Homo sapiens: one gene and its partners. The protein of the gene in region 5 purifies or fractionates together with the protein of the main gene of each other region. This does not show direct contact. Each region holds a gene or a part of one and is shown on either strand. Other genes may lie near its edges.

Evidence for each region.
Region 1: the proteins of EIF5A2 (region 5) and TRIM71 purify together in Homo sapiens (affinity purification with western blotting, with the first as the bait; one study listed by BioGRID). This does not show direct contact.
Region 2: the proteins of EIF5A2 (region 5) and PIK3C2A purify together in Homo sapiens (affinity purification with mass spectrometry; one large-scale study listed by BioGRID and IntAct). This does not show direct contact.
Region 3: the proteins of EIF5A2 (region 5) and TFAP2B purify together in Homo sapiens (affinity purification with mass spectrometry; one large-scale study listed by BioGRID and IntAct). This does not show direct contact.
Region 4: the proteins of EIF5A2 (region 5) and PDCD2L purify together in Homo sapiens (affinity purification with mass spectrometry; one large-scale study listed by BioGRID and IntAct). This does not show direct contact.

What each region holds. Positions count from the first base shown.
Region 1 is NC_000003.12:32,887,490-32,891,011, forward strand, and holds part of TRIM71 (E3 ubiquitin-protein ligase TRIM71), read left to right. Parts: intron 1-2,870; coding exon 2,871-3,522.
Region 2 is NC_000011.10:17,113,985-17,117,506, reverse strand, and holds part of PIK3C2A (phosphatidylinositol 4-phosphate 3-kinase C2 domain-containing subunit alpha), read left to right. Parts: coding exon 1-16; intron 17-3,041; coding exon 3,042-3,146; intron 3,147-3,522.
Region 3 is NC_000006.12:50,821,863-50,825,384, forward strand, and holds part of TFAP2B (transcription factor AP-2-beta), read left to right. Parts: intron 1-271; coding exon of another isoform or gene 272-298; intron 299-1,544; coding exon 1,545-2,003; intron 2,004-3,522.
Region 4 is NC_000019.10:34,421,391-34,424,047, reverse strand, and holds part of PDCD2L (programmed cell death protein 2-like), read right to left. Parts: intron 2,530-2,657; coding exon 2,381-2,529; intron 1-2,380. UniProt on the Homo sapiens protein: Over-expression suppresses AP1, CREB, NFAT, and NF-kB transcriptional activation, and delays cell cycle progression at S phase.
Region 5 is NC_000003.12:170,891,635-170,895,156, reverse strand, and holds part of EIF5A2 (eukaryotic translation initiation factor 5A-2), read left to right. Parts: intron 1-733; coding exon 734-865; intron 866-1,737; coding exon 1,738-1,797; 3' UTR 1,798-3,522. UniProt on the Homo sapiens protein: Translation factor that promotes translation elongation and termination, particularly upon ribosome stalling at specific amino acid sequence contexts.

The DNA of each region.
Region 1 (3,522 bases), about 140 Mb from region 5:
TTTTTTTTTTTTTCTGTTCCTTCCCAGCAAATCCCTCTTACTTTGCCTGTCTCTGTCTGGGCATCTCTTTGTTACAAGTTTTGTTTTCCTGCATCTCTGGTTACTTTAAGATATATAAGTGCAAGGATTAAGATAACCCTGTTGTAAATATCCAGATGCCTCTCTTCATTCTTGGGCCTTATGTATTTCCAGTGGACTTGGCTACCTCATGGGGTTAGCTGCATATATATAGTTCATGGGTAAGAACCAAAGGTGGAGGTTTGGCCTAATGGGCAAATATTCTTTAATCTGTCCCCACGTGGGCCTCTCCATACACATGTATCCTGGTTCACTGAACAGATGAAAAAGCAGGAATGAGTCGAAATCATATAATCACCCCTCCCACCCTAAAGGGAAAGTCAGGTTGAAATCCAGCTCTTTCAACAGTGGACGCTTATTCTGAAATAGCCTTCTATGGCTTTCAGATCTGTAGAACAACTCAAGTCATGGTCCTCTGTGAAAACTGTTTGGATAAGTTCATTCGCTTCACAGGGGGAAATTGCTTAGAATTAGAGAACTTTTAAAGAATAGAGAAACTAATGTTTCATTGGTAAAACAAAATTCCATATTTCTAAATAGCATGGTTTGAGAACCTCAAGCAGGAATTATTTTGGCAGGTTAGAATCCATGTCCATATATATTATAGCATTTTAGATTTAAAGGGCTCTTTTGGAAATAATACAGACATGCCAAAAGCGTGCTATGTTAAAATTTGGGGTACAGGGCTTCTCAGGTTCCCAGTTGGGTTTTTAAAACCATTCTTAAAATACAGAAGTAAAGAGAAACTGGCCCAAGCACAGTGACTCACGCCTGTAATGCCAACACTTTGGGAGGCTGAGGTGGGAAGATTGCTTGAGTCCAGGATTTTGAGGCCACCCGTGGCAACATTAAGACCCCATCTCTACCAAAAAAAAAAAAAAAAAAAAAAAAAAAAAAAAAAAAAAAGGTGCCCTGTGGTGGTGGTCTCCTTTAATACACATTTCCCAAGCTAATCCTTTTGCGGTTTGTTGTTGTTGTTGTTGTTGTTTTGAGACGGAGTTTCGCTCTTATTGCCCAGGCTGGACTGCAGTGGCACGATCTCGGCTCACTGCAACCTCCGTCTCCTGGGTTCAAGCGATTCTCCTGCCTCAGCCTCCCAAGTAGCTGGGATTACAGCCACCTGCCACCACGCTCGGCTAGTTTTGTATTTTTAGTACAGAGAAGGTCTCACTATGTTGGCCAGACTGGTTTTGAACTCCTGACCTCAGGTGGTCCACCCATCTTGGCCTCCCAAAGCATGAGCCACTGTGCTGGGCCCCAAACTAATTCTTTAAGAATATGAATCTGTCATGTCACTCCCCTACTGAAAGCTGTGGTTGTGAAATGCTGAGCCTGTGCCCACAGCAGGACCTTTGCTGTTTCCTTTGCTGAGATAGCTCTCCCTATGGCCTTTTGCCTAGTCTCAACCTGTAGGTCTGAACTTGTGAAAGGCACTGTCCCTCAGTGCTCTTTGTCTGTATCAGGGCCCCTAGACACTGTCTTTCACATCCTTTTTCTACTTTTTAACACCTATCACTATCTGACATGATCCTTATTTCTTCGTTTGCTTTTGAATACTGCTTTTCTAAACTACAACTCTGTGTGAGCAAGGACCATATTTTATATTTTCTGTGGGTTACTGCAGTACCTCCAATGCCTGGCAAAGTGTAGGTGCTCAGTACACTCCTTTGTCAAATGGCTGTTTTTGGTTTTGGTGGTGGGATCTTGCTATTTTTTTAAGGTGGGATCTTGCTGTATTACCCAGGCTGGAGTGCAGTGGTTATTCACAGACACAGTCATGGCACACTACAGACTCAGCCTCCTAGGCTCAAGTGATTCTTCCACCTCAGCTTCCCGAGTAGCTGGGATTACAGGTGCACAGCACTGTGCCCAGCTCTAGATGGCTGTTTTTAACTTTTATTTTTTTTAATTTATAGCTTACAGAAAAGTTGCAGTAATAGTAACTCCATATATTCCTTCTCCAGATTTACTGATTATGTACGTTTTGTCCCAATTATTATTATTATTATTATTATTATTATTATTATTATTATTATTTTGAGACGGAGTCTCGCCCTGTTCCCTAGGTTGGAGTGCAATGGTGTGATCTCTACTCACTGCAACCTCCGCCTCTCGGGTTCAAGCGATTCTCCCCACATCAGCTTCCCAAATAGCTGGGATTACAGGCACCTGTTACCACACTTGGTTAATTTTTGTTATTTTTAGTAGAGACAGGGTTTTGCCATGTTGGCCAGACTGGTCTCAAACTCCTGACCTCAGGTGATCTGCCTGCTTCATCCTCCCAAAGTGCTGGGATTAGAGGCATGAGGCGTGCGTGTATGTGTGTGTGTGTGTATGTATGTATGTATGTATGTGTATATATGTTTGTGATCTGAGAGTGAGTTGGCATATTGGAAACACAATGCCTTTACCCCTAATCACATTACAATTACAGAAATCAGGAAATTTGATTTTGATACAGTACTAGCATCTACTCCTCAGTCCATAATCAAGGTTCAACAATTGTCCCAACAGTGCTTTTCATAGCTAGCCACTCCCTCCAGTCCAGAGTCACTAATTACATATAGTTGTCCTGTTTCTAGTAACTATCCTCTGTAACCCAGAACAGTTCTTCAGGTTTTTTGGTCCATTTTGATTTTGCTGCTTTTGAAGAAAGACAGATGTCTTTTGTAGACCATCCCACAATATGTGTTTGTCTGATGCTTCCTTGTGATTAGTTGTGGCTTATGTGGTATTTTCTGTGCTTGGCTCTAAGCCTCTGTGTCTTTCTCCACTCTTGCTTTTCCCTCCAGGTAGAAAAGATCCGCCAGGTGAAAGCCAAGTCTCTGTACCTGCAGGTGGAGAAGCTGCGGCAAAACCTCAACAAGCTTGAGAGCACCATCAGTGCCGTGCAGCAGGTCCTGGAGGAGGGTAGAGCGCTAGACATCCTACTGGCCCGAGACCGGATGCTGGCCCAGGTGCAGGAGCTGAAGACCGTGCGGAGCCTCCTGCAGCCCCAGGAAGACGACCGAGTCATGTTCACACCCCCCGATCAGGCACTGTACCTTGCCATCAAGTCTTTTGGCTTTGTTAGCAGCGGGGCCTTTGCCCCACTCACCAAGGCCACAGGCGATGGCCTCAAGCGTGCCCTCCAGGGTAAGGTGGCCTCCTTCACAGTCATTGGTTATGACCACGATGGTGAGCCCCGCCTCTCAGGAGGCGACCTGATGTCGGCTGTGGTCCTGGGCCCTGATGGCAACCTGTTTGGTGCAGAGGTGAGTGATCAGCAGAATGGGACATACGTGGTGAGTTACCGACCCCAGCTGGAGGGTGAGCACCTGGTATCTGTGACACTGTGCAACCAGCACATTGAGAACAGCCCTTTCAAGGTGGTGGTCAAGTCAGGCCGCAGCTACGTGGGCATTGGGCTCCCGGGCCTGAGCTTCGGCAGTGAGGGTGACAGCG
Region 2 (3,522 bases), on a different chromosome or scaffold from region 5:
TGGATCAGCCAGACAGGTATGTACCCATAAAAGGTAATATAAATGTGTTAATGTTAAAGGAAGGATCTTTATGGTGCTGACTAATTAAGTTGCTATTCTTTATTGGTAGACTCCCAGTAGAACTCTAACTATACCCATGCTATTTGGGGCAGATAAATTCAAAGATTGTTTAAAATATATAGGAACATATTTCACAACCTATTAAAATCAGTGATTTTCCCATGCTTATTTATTTCCATGCTTATTTATTCCTTTCTGATGAAAATTGTTTTCTTGAATTCCTTTACCTCCACTATCAAAGTCCACAGTATTTTCATCACACCAAAAAGAAAGCATGTCCCCATTTTCCCCTCCCAGCCACTAAACTGTTTTCTGTCAATATGGATACGTCTATACTTCTATATGGATATTCTGGACACTTCATGGACTTTTCTGTCTAGTTTCTTTCACTTAGCATAAAGTTTTCAGAGTTCATCTGTGTTCTAGCATGTGTACTACATGCCATTTTTGGTTGAATAATATTCCATTGTGTGGATATACCACATTTGGTTTAAACATTCATCAGTTGGTGGACATTTGGGTTGTTTCCACTTTTTGACTATTAATAATAATACTGCTGGCCAGGCGTGGTGGCTCATGCCTGTAATCCCAGCACTTTGGGAGGCCCAGGCGGGCAGATCACGAGGTCAGGAGATCGAGACCATCCTGGTTAACATGGTGAAACCCCGTCTCTACTAAAAATACAAAAAATTAGCCAGGCATGGTGGCGGGCGCCTGCAGTCCCAGCTGCTCGGGAGGCTGAGGCAGGAGAATGGCGTGAACCCGGGAGGCGGAGCTTGCAGTGAACCGAGATCGAGCCACTATACTCCAGCCTGGGCGACAGAGCAAGACTCTGTCTCAAAAAAAAAAAAAGAATACTGCTATGAATATTCATGTATAAATTTGTGTTTAAACAACTGTTTCCACTTAGGAATGGCAGAGCTAGGTCATATGGTAGTTCTGTGCTTAACTTTTTGGGGAATCATAGAATTATTGTCTGTAGCAGCTATATCACTTTACATTCCCACCAGCAATATAGAAGGGTTCCAGTTTCACCACATCCTCACCAACATTGTTTTTTTTCCTGTTTTTTGATTATGGCCATTCTAGTGGGTGTGAAGCAGTATCTCGTTGTGGTTTTGAGTTGAATTTCCCTAGTGACTAATGATATTGAGCACATTCTCATATGTTTATTGGCCATTTGTATTCTTTGGAGAAATATCTATTCAAAGTCCTTTGTCCATTTTAAATTGGAATGTCTTTTTTGTTGTTGAGTTGTAAGAGTTATTTATATATTTTGGATACTAGACCTTTATCACATACACTATTTGCAAATATTTTTTTCATTCTGCAGTTGTCTTTTTAATTCCTTAATAGTGTCCTTTAATATATTAATACAAAAATGTTTAAGTTTGATGAAGTCCAGTTTATCTATTTTTTTCTTTTGTGGCTCATGCTTTTAGTGTCATATCTAAGAATCCATCATTAAATCTAATGCCATAAAGATGTACACCTGTGTTTTCTTCTAAGCTTTTCTAGTTTTAGCTCTTATGTTTAGGTCTTTGATCCGTTGTGGTATGAAGTAGAGGCCCAACTTTATTCTTTTGAATGAGGTTATCCAGTTGTCTTAGCACCATTTGTTAAAGAGACCCCCTCCTTCCTCTTGAATGGTTTTGGCGTACTTGTCAAAAATCAGTTGACCCTGTGCTTGCTTCGGTAACACATATACTAAAATTGGAATGATACAGAGAAGATTAGCATGCCCCCTACACTACGATGACATGCAAATTCGTGAAGTGTTCTGTTAAAAATTTTTAAATAAAAAAGTTGACCACATATATGGGTTTTTTTCTAGACTCTCAATTCTATATCATATATGTCTATCCATATGCTATATTTGTTTTTTTTTTTTTTTTCCTTTTTTTCCTTGAGATGAGGTCTCTCTGTTGCCCAGGCTGGAGTGCAGTGGTGTGATCACAATTCACCACAGCCTCAGCCTCCTGGGCTCAAGTGATCTTCTCGCTTCAGCCTCCCAAGTAGCTGGGACCACAGGTGTTTGCCACCATGCCTGTCTTTTTTTTTTTTTTTTTTTTTTCTTGTAGGGACAGGGTTTTGCCATGTTTCCCAGGCTGGTCTTGAACTCCTGGGCTCAAGCAGTCCTCCCATTTTGGCCTCCCAAAGTCCTAGGATTATAGATATGAGCCATCCACCCAGCCTATACTTTTTTTAATTACCATAGTTTTATAGTAAGTTTTGAAATTGGACAATGTAAGTCCTCCTACTTTGTTCTTTTTCATTATTATTTTTGGCTATTCAGGGGACACTTGCAATTTCATATGAATTTTAGGAACCGTGTATCCATTGCTGCAAAAAGGCAGTTGGAATTTTGATAAGAATTATAGATTAATTTGGGGAAATATTACATACAATCTTAATTATAAACTATTACCTCTATATACATTGTTTACCTGTTTTCTCTTTACTAAACAATACTGCAATGAACTTTGGTTGGTGTGTACATTTTTATTTCTTTGCTAGTATTTCTTTCAGAAAATTCCTACAGGTGAAATAGCTGAGTCAAGAGCGACATGTATTTTTAGTTATAATAGTTGTTACATTGCTCTACAAAAGAAGCTACACCTGTGTACACCTCTCTCCCTACCAATAAGTTATGAAATCGTTTCCTAACACAGGATGTTGTTTTAAATTTTCATCTGATAGGTGAAAAACTGCATTCATTTTTGTTTGGCTTCTATTTCTTTGACTATTAGTGAGCTTTAACATTTTCGTATACATTGGTTGGCCAAATGTACCTTTGCCCACTATATTTATAGCCTTTGGCCATTCTAGTTTTATAGTAAAAATTAACTCTCTTTAGTAACAACCTTTTTTTCACCGTTTGACAACTGGGCATTTTATAAATTGTATCCACAGCATAACTTGTCTGAAAAATAGATCTTCATTTTCATTATGTACTTACAGTATCACATCTCTTTCTATAGGTTGTTCTCCAAAGAAGTATGGAACGAGTACAGTCCTTTTTTCAGAAAAATAAATGCCGTCTCCCTCTCAAGCCAAGTCTAGTGGCAAAAGAATTAAATATTAAGGTGACACATAAAATACTTATAAGTTCATATTACATTTGAAAATAATAGGAAGAAGGCAAATGGGCAGGTATGCTTAAGGCAAATGAAGGTAAAACCTGCACAGGTTGGTTATAAGCATGGATGGTTGTGATTAGGATCCATATTTATCTTAGCATATTTTTTTACCTAACCACCATTCCTGGGAAAAAAAAAGTATAAAATTATTTACTGCCTTGGGCTTCATTTTTTTAAATTGGTCTCACCTTTTTATTTATTTATTTATTTATTTATTTATTTATTTTTTGAGACAAAGTCTCACTCTTGCCCAAGCTGGAGTGCAGTGGTGCGATCTTGGCTCACTGCAACCTCCACCTCCCAAGTTCAAGCGATTCTCCTG
Region 3 (3,522 bases), on a different chromosome or scaffold from region 5:
GGACTGCATCTGGAGCCCCGAAGAACGGCAGAAGAAAAGAGGCCAAAAAGACAGCAAAGAGACAGATGAATAGTTCTGTCTGTGTGTGACAGGCATCGCCAATCTTGTTGGGGTGGGGGGCGGGTGTAATTTTTTTTTTTTTTTTTTGATGGCTTGTCCTGGAAACACATCAAGCTCAGCTCCTGTGTCCAGCTCGCTTCTCTGCTGGACTCCTTGATTTTTTTTTTAATCATTGTTTGATTTTGAGCAGTAACCAGGCTTTTTTTTCCAGATGTTAGTCCACACCTATTCATCCATGGTGAGTTTGGATTCACGTGTTACCAGAATTGCATGCTCCCTCCTCTCACTGTCTCTCTGTCTCTGCGTCTCTGTGTGTGTGTGTGTCTCACACTCTCTGTCTCTCTCTGTCTTCCTTTGAGCGCCTTTGGCTTGGTAATTTAGCACCATAATTGGACGAGGCTGCAGCTGCTTCTCTCTGCATTGTGTGTTCTCCGTCTGAGCTCCATGAGTCAGCTGGGAGGGGAGAGGCCGAAAAGAAAAACTTTTTATTTGCCATTGCTGTTTGGAAATTTAGGTGACTATTTCTGCAAAAAGAACCATGGGGAGTTTACCATGATGTTTCCAGAGAAGAGAGGGAGAAACAAAGTCCACCTCCCTCATATACACACCTCCCCCTTCTTCTTTCACTTAGTTCACACTCCAGATAGGACCAGGAATAAGTTGTCTGGGCTTTTATTTCCCCCCACCCCAACTTTAGTTCCTTCATTTTCACATCCTGAGTATAACAGCATTAGATATAGAAAAACAGTCTTAGAAATAACTCCTATGAACCACAACTCAACTTAATTCATCATTGGCTTAGGATATGATTTCGAATGAGATCCATTTCAATGAAACACTATTTAAGTTATTTAATTTCTCCTGGAGAGGGAGGAGTGACTGGGAACTCAGACCAGGTGGATTCCTTGGAGCTCTTGGAATGATCAGGTTGTGTGGAAAGCTCCTCCTAATCAGCCAGCTGCATTTCCAGCGAAGGCAGAAGTTGGTTTTTAATCAGGGGGAGCAGCACAGCAAATACTATGAAGTTTTATTTGTTGTGATTTGTACCTCTGGAAGAGTTAGAAAAAAGTAGTTAAAAACACCCAGAGGAGCAAACACCATATGTAAGACTCCTACAATTTTAATTAAGGCATTTAGAATCTCCCTCCATACACACTGTTCCTGTACCCCTGCCTTTTGCCTGCTTTGCACTCCCCAAAAAGCGGCTAAAATGTTATAGTTAAGTGGGTGATTCCTTTCCCATTTTCTCCCCAAGCCTGGGGTTTGAAATTGCTGAAATCATGTGGCCCTCTGAGTCAACTTGGGGGTCTAAGTTTCAGATCCTTGCTTCCCTTGTCCCGGGAAGAGCGTACAAAAGCCGGGCTTCTCCATTTGTCACTTGTATTTTTTTTCTTCCTCTCTGTACTCTCTGTCTCTCTCTGCCTCTATCTCTCTTTCTCTGTCTCCTTCTCTGGCTCTCTTCCCCTTCCTCTCTCCGCTCCCAGGACCGGCACGATGGTGTCCCGAGCCACAGCTCGCGGCTCTCCCAGCTGGGCTCGGTGTCCCAAGGACCCTACTCGAGCGCCCCGCCGCTGTCCCACACCCCGTCGTCGGACTTCCAGCCGCCCTACTTCCCACCCCCCTACCAGCCGCTCCCCTACCACCAGAGCCAGGACCCCTACTCCCACGTCAACGACCCCTACTCCCTGAACCCACTGCACCAGCCCCAGCAACATCCCTGGGGGCAACGGCAGCGGCAAGAAGTGGGTTCGGAAGCCGGCTCTCTCCTGCCCCAGCCTCGGGCCGCCTTGCCCCAGCTCTCGGGCCTTGACCCCCGGAGGGACTACCACTCGGTCCGCCGGCCGGACGTGCTGCTGCATTCGGCGCACCACGGCCTGGACGCGGGCATGGGTGACAGCCTCTCGCTGCACGGCCTCGGCCATCCCGGAATGGAAGACGTCCAGGTAACCACAAACAAACAAACAAACAAACAAAAAAGACCACGAATAAGGAATGCTTCTGGAGGGGGGGAGGTCAGGAGAGGGCAGCTCTGTCTCTTTTTGGGGAGTTTGTTCCCATGTTTAGAACAGGACTAGACAGTCATATAGAACTGTTTATGTGTGTCTGTATGTATGGCTCTATAGTGGCGATTTCCAGAGGTCTAATTATGATCATCCAAACCACGAGAAATTAAATCTTGAAGAAGAAAAATATGTATTTGCTTTGATACCTTAAGATTATTAGAATAAAGGCGAATGCTTTTGTCCTGCCTCAGCTACCATCTCCTGCATATTCTCTAGTGCTTTGTGGAAGCCAGCTTGGTACCCCTTCTTTACCAACACACACACCCCATAGTGGGGCTGTCCTGCTGACTTGGCAGGTGAAGACCTGGCTGCCTAGAGGCTAGAGCTTCAGAATGAAGTTCCAGGGGCCTCTGTATGCTCCAGAGGTTGCTGCTGAATTTGCAAAGATTTTGCTAAGCATGACAATGAGCTCTGATCATCTAAGCCAGGTCTTGCTTTGAATGTCTCATAAGCCACAGAGCTTTTTTCCAAGAGATAGTTGCAGTCCTCATCTGAGAAATAGAATATATGTGAAGGAGAAACTCAGAACGCCATAATTCAGGAGTCCATGATGGTAGATACCATTTTGGAAATTCTTTTCACTTTTTGGTTCATTAAGTGACTGTAGTGTAATATTCTCCACCTCCCTCTCCTGGCCTCCGCCTATATTAACACTCTTCTCTCCCCACTGCCATCATCCCAGTTGAGAGGCATCACGTGTTTATTTCTTAAAACAAAAGGCTCAAAACACTCCCCCTACCCACCCACTATCCCATCTGCAGTCTACACAATGGAGCCTGATTTGGTTGAGAATACTTGGTTAAACTAAACAAAGAAACATCAAAGAAATGATTCCTAAAAACTGTTTGGGTGATTCTGAGCAGGTCTGCTTTTTCACCCTAAGTTAAATAGTTGGCAGAAAAGATAAATATAGTTTACAGGTATGTAATTGACACTTCAGTTTCATTGGCATAGTTGTATTTATTATGCATCCTTTGACATACCTCTGAAGCAAAGGAAAATAAAATGGGAAAGAGAAGAGGGTGCAAGAGTCATTCTTCTGTACCTTGCTGAAAAAAAATAGTTTTAAACAGTTAAAATGTGGTGACAGCATCAAATGCTGTCTGTGTGTGGTCTATGATTGTTTATTGTTTTAAAAGAAATTCAGTTATTTATTTTTTTAAAAAAGACGGAATTACCTGATTTGTGCCTGGATTTACTGATAGTAATAAGAGTGATGATGGTTTTGTTGATTTAACTGAGCTTGACTGTTCCTGGCTAGAGATATTGCTCATTTCTGAATATCATATGAAAAAGGAAGTATTTAATAGTTTTTTTTTTAATGCATTGGGGTAATATGTGTCTCGAGGGGAAAAGTTTTTAAATTAACCTTTCTGAGTATGGTTCAAAGTGCTGGATA
Region 4 (2,657 bases), on a different chromosome or scaffold from region 5:
TTCTGAAAAGAGAAAGTGGGATTTAAAAATTTTATACATGGGTTGCCCCTCAAATATGAAGCCACATTACCATGCACAATCTGAAGCAAGATACCTCTGAGCCCTCCTTAAAGCTATTACTTGAGAAAATCCAGCTACTGCAAAAAGAATCAAAATAAAACAGGAATAAAAAAGCTCACTCTAAGAGTGGTGATAAACACTGAATCCATTTACACATAGAACTAAGGCTATCCAAATAGCTGTGATAATTATGATACTGGCCAGGCGCGGTGGCTCATGCCTGTAAATCCCAGCACTTTGGGAGGTCGAGGTGGACGGATCACTTGAGGTCAGGAGTTCAAGACCAGCCAACATGGCGAAACCCCGTCTCTATTAAAAATACAACATTAGCAGGGCGTGGTGGTGGGCGCCTGTAATCCCAGCTACTCAAGAGGCTGAGGCAGGAGAATCGCTTGAACCTGGGAGGCAGAGGTTGCAATGAGCCGAGATAGTGCCACTGTACTCCAGGCTGGGCGACAGAGTGAGGCTCCATCTCAAAAAAAAAAAAAAAAAAAAAGATACTGGGTCCAGGCACGGTGGCTCATGCCTATAATCCAAGCACTTTGGGATGCCGAGGCAGGTCGGGAGCTTGAGGTCAGGAGTTTGAGACCAGCCTGGCCAACAACAGTGAAACCTGTTTCTACCAAAAATATAAAAAATTAGCTGGGTGTGGTGGTGGGCACCTGTAATCCCAGCTACTCAGGAGGCTGAGGCAGGAGAATCACTTGAACCTGGGAGGCAGAGGTTGCAGTGAGCCGAGATAGCACCATTGCACTCCAACCTGGGTGAAACTCCGTCTCAAAAAACAAAAAAGATACTGAAATATTTCAAGGTAGGAATAGGGTATAAATTTCCTTATCTACTATGGTAAGGAGCCAGATGCATACTATCTAAAACTGAAACACAGAAAGAATGTTATTTTCTGTTAATAGCAGAAGCACCTTTCAGAAACTTGGGCCTCTTAGGTAAAGAACCTATTACCAAAAGTCCAGGCCAGGCGTGGCAGCTCACGCCTGTAATCCCAGCACTTTGGGAGGCTGAGGTGGGCGGATCACAAGGTCAGGAGATCAACACCATCCTGGCTAACACAGTGAAACCCCGTCTCTACTAAAAATACAAAAAAAAATTAGCTGGGCTTGGTTGCGGGCGCCTGTAGTCCCAGCTCCTTGGGAGGCTGAGGCAGGAGAATGGCATGAACCCGGGAGGCGGAGCTTGCAGTGAGCTGAGATTATGCCACTGCACTCCAGCCTGGGCGACAGAGCAAGACTCCGTCTCAAGAAAAAAGAAGGAAAAAAAAAAAAATCCAGTAACTGCTTCACTTATACTTAACATTCCTTCTGTTAATTTGTACAAAAATTTGTTCTAAGACTTTTAATTACCATATTAGTGAATTTTCCTATTTTAGGAAAATTATTTTCGTCTAGCCATCCATACATTCATCTGACTTGCTATTTGTCTTTATGTCAAAAATGATTGTTGGAATAATGGTTATTAACATTGATAATAGTTTTAATTTCTGGCCAGGCATGGTTCATGCTTGTAATCACTTTGGGAGGCCAAGGCGGGAGGATCGCTTGAGTCTAGGAGTTCGAGACCAGCCTGGGCAACATGACGCAACCTTGTCTCTACAAAAAATACAAAAATTCCATCCTGGCCAACACAGTGAAACCCTATCACTACTAAAAATACAAAAACTAGCCGGGCGTGGTGGCGGGCACCTGTAATCCCAGCTACTAGGGAGGCTGAGGGAGGGGAATTGCTAGACCCCGGGAGCTGGAGGTTGCAGTGAGCCAAGAACGTGCCACTGCACTCCAGCCTGGGCGACAGAGAGAGACTCCATCTCAATAAATAAATCAATCAATAAATATTAAAAAAAAAAAAAAAAGACTGGCTGGATTATAAATTTCTTTTTTTTTTTTTGAGACAGAGTCTCCTCACTCTGTCGCCAGGCTGGAGTAGAGTGGTGCGATCTTGGCTCACTGCAACCTCTACCTCCTGGGTTCAAGCGATTCCCTGCCTCAACCTCCCAAGGAGCTGGGACTACAGGCACGTGCCACCACGCCCAGCTAATTTTTTATATTATAGTAGAGACAGGGTTTCACCACATTGGCCAGGATGGCCTCGATCTCCTGACCTTGTGATCCACCCGCCTTGGCCTCCCAAAGTGCTGGGATTACAGGCATGAGCCACCACACCTGGCCTAAATTTCTTAAAATAATTTTTTAATTCCCAAATTTTCTGTAATTTGCTTATGATATTTTATAAGTAAACAAAAGGTTTTTCATTTATTTAAAAATAATGCCAGAAATCCACAAACTCAAATTAATAAAGGGCTTCTCACCTAAATTAGCACTCTTGAGCATGCTGACCAGTGCTGGCATAAGCTGAAACTCAAATATCCTTTGGCCTCCACACTGGCTGCAGGCTGGGAGCTCGGTGACTTCTGATGTAGGGCAGGTCAAAAAGAGTGGCTCTCCACTCCAGGAATACCTAGGACAAGGAAACAAAGAACCCCGAATCAGAGCCACACAAGTCGCATTCTAGCATCTAAGGCCATGCTTTGCAACCTTTCTTTGTTTCTTGCAGAAATCTCCCAGAGGCCCAAAAACCTAGCACCA
Region 5 (3,522 bases):
CAGATATGTGGTAGTTAACTAAGGTAGGTTTACATTTTCTGCTTAGAAAGTATTTATAAGACATATTATTAAGTCAAAACAGCTCACTGTAAAGTACTTATAATATCTCTTTTTTTTTTTTTTTTTTTTTTGAGACAGAGTCTCGCTCTGTCGCCCAGGCTGGAGTGCAGGGGCACGATCTTGGCTCACCGCAAGCTCCACCTCCTGGGTTCACGCCATTCTCCTGCCTCAGCCTCCCAAGTAGATGGGACTACAGGTGTCTGCCACCACACCTGGCTAATTTTTTGTATTTTTAGTAGAGATGGGGTTTCACCGTGTTAGCCAGGATGGTCTCAATCTCCTGACCTCATGATCCGCCCGCCTCGGCCTCCCAAAGTGCTGGGATTACAGGCGTGAGCCACCGCACTTGGCCCAATATCCCATTTTGATTAAAAAAAAAAACAAAACAGCAACTATATTTATTTTGTGAACATAAATGGAATACACTATAAAGAAACCTAAACTGTTTAACAAGGCAGAGATTGGGTATGGGAAGTACCGGGAGGAGTAAACTTATATTTCCATTCTGTACATATTTTATATTTTTTATATTTTTAGCATTTTAAATACCAAGAATATTAATATATTACTGTATACTTATATGAATTAATATCAATTGCAATTTAACTATGTAAGCATTACACAGAAGTGGATATAATCTAATCAGCACAAATGATATAATTTCTTCTAATAGCTGATATGCATTCAAGATGGTTACCTTTCCCTGCTGACAGAAACTGGTGAAGTTCGTGAGGATCTTAAACTGCCAGAAGGTGAACTAGGCAAAGAAATAGAGGGAAAATACAATGCAGGTGAAGATGTACAGGTAAAGACTTAGAGAAGGATTATTTTTGAAAACCATTTTATAAAAACTTTGACCTCAACTAGTTAACATAAAATACTACATATGGAATGTGGTTTAAAAATACTGCTAAAATGTTGAAAATGATCTCTCAGGCAGGTTTTCCATAAAACCCTTAGAGACTCATTATCAAAGAAAGTATCAAAGTTCATTTTTGCTACATCAGCATTACTCTCAAACCCAAATTTGTTTTGAAGCTCTGCACCTGACTTTTTTTTTTTTTTTGAGACGGAGTCTCCCTCTGTCACCCAGGCTGGAGTGCAGTGGCGTGATCTCGGCTCATTGCAACCTCCGCGTCCCAGGTTCAAGCGATTCTCCCCTCAGCCTCCTGAGTAGCTGGGATTGCAGGCGCGTGCCACCACATCTGGCTAATTTTTGTATTTTTAGTAAAGATTGGGTTTCAGCATGTTGGCCAAGCTGGTTTTGAACTCCTGACCTCAGGTGATCCCCCAACCTTGGCCTCCCAAAAGTGCTGGGATTACAGGCCTGAGCAAGGCGCCCAGCCCTGAGCTATTCTTACAGGTAAGAAATGATGCTAGTGGAATGTTAAAGAGTGAAGGAGATTTACTGTCTTCGTTACAACTTTCAGAAATGTAACGGGTAGTAAGTGTTCAAACATTTATAGTTATTTTTCCTGTTCCCTGGAAGTTGTCTTACAAACCACTCTGAGAAATTCTGCTTTAGAAAACTGTAAAGAAAGTAGCTTGTTTTGGAATACCCCTTTCAGAAGTCCATATGTACAAAATATCCACAAATATACAATATATGAGGAACTAATTATATCTTCTATATGTATTGTCTTCTGAATAACGTTTTGCCTGCTTTTTTCCTTCTAGGTGTCTGTCATGTGTGCAATGAGTGAAGAATATGCTGTAGCCATAAAACCCTGCAAATAAACGGAAACATCAGGCATGAACACTGTTTATGTCTGAATCAACTGCAGATCTAATTTGGTTCTAAGTTGTCACCAAAGCTATAGCCTTCATAAGCAACCTCATTTCTTTTTTTAATTGTTTTCAGATTGTGCTGGGTTAGTTTTGCAAGCAATTGATAATTTTTAAAAAATTATCAATATGTATAATTTTTTTTGAATTTTGTAGATATGTTTCCTATAATATTCCTGTGGTTTTCAGTATGTCAGTCCAAGAAACAAACAAGATAGCTTCAGCAGATGTGATTTGTCTGAGCAAATCATTCCTGTGTTTTAGTTAGATGATAAACCAGGGTTTTAAATCAAACAATGTAGCATAAAGTGGTATTGAAGTACCATATTTAAGTTGAACTGCTCTGCATTAATTACAGATTTAATATAAAATGAACTGATTATATATTGGAATTGTTGCACTTTCAGCCTGTGTAGGGCAAACACAAATCCTTAAACAAAAATCATGTTATCAAAAACTGTCAGTTATTTTGGTGGCCACATGCAACCATGTGATTACTTTGGTCATACTATTTACCAAATTGTTGGCAAACTTGATGTAACCTTATATGGTGGTTTTAGTCCCTTCTTATGGTTGGCAGAAGGGCACTGAACTGTTGGGTGAAAGTTAGTTAGCAAGTAAGATTATAAGGAAGACACAAAAGACAGTGGCAAAGAGGGTTGATTAAATCTATAAGTTTTTATGTGAGGACTTTGTAAGTCAGCATAAAAATGAAAAGTTGTTTCTCAGTTGTTTTTGCTTTTAACTTTGCCCCCAACGTTTAAAGGGAGTGATCTGCTTTACATGATACTATGCAATGCTTGTTTTCCAACTATGTTGAATAAATAGTAATATTTATCAGTAAATACTCCTTTCCAACTTCCTTTTTTTTTTTTTTTTTTTTGAGACTGAGTCTCACTCCATCAGCCAGGCTGGAGTGCAGTGGTGCAATCTCGGCTCACTGCAACCTCTGCCTCCCGAGTTCAAGCAATTCTCCTGCCTCAGCCTCCCAAGTAGCTGGGACTACAGGTGCATGCCACCACGCCCAGCTACTTTTTTGTGTATTTTAGTAGAGATGGGGTTTCACCATGTTGTCTAGGCTGGTCTTGAACTCCTGACCTCAGGTGATCCACCTGCCTCAGCCTCCCAAAGTGCTGGGATTACAGGCATGAGCCACCACACCCAGCCCCTTTCCAACCATTTCTAAGTAGATTTTTTGACATTAATGTATTTATTAAACAAAAACTGAGAATTCCTTAAATTGATTTGGAATTTTTGTTAATTTTATGTCCTTTTTTTCCTAAAGTGAATTAAAGTGAATCATGGAAGCAGCATTACTTTATATGAATATTATTATTTAAGTTAAGTTATTTTAAGTATATGCATTTTTTCTGATTGTTGTGTGACTTAATTCAGTTGCTGGTGTGAACTATAACTAGCAAATAATTCTATAAACTGAATTATTTTAAAAGGTATTTTAGGTGACACCACTGCATTTCTATTTCATCTTTTGAGTCATATGTATATTATTTCCAGAATTTTAGACATTATTACAGGGTTTGTGAGGACCTTTGACTCAGTGACAATCATCATATTGGAGCAAAACATAGAACAAAATCACTATCTCAGAAATACCTTAATTCTCTAAGACTGGCTCTTAGACCTCTCCCATCATGCCTTGACCTCTAAAAAGCCCTT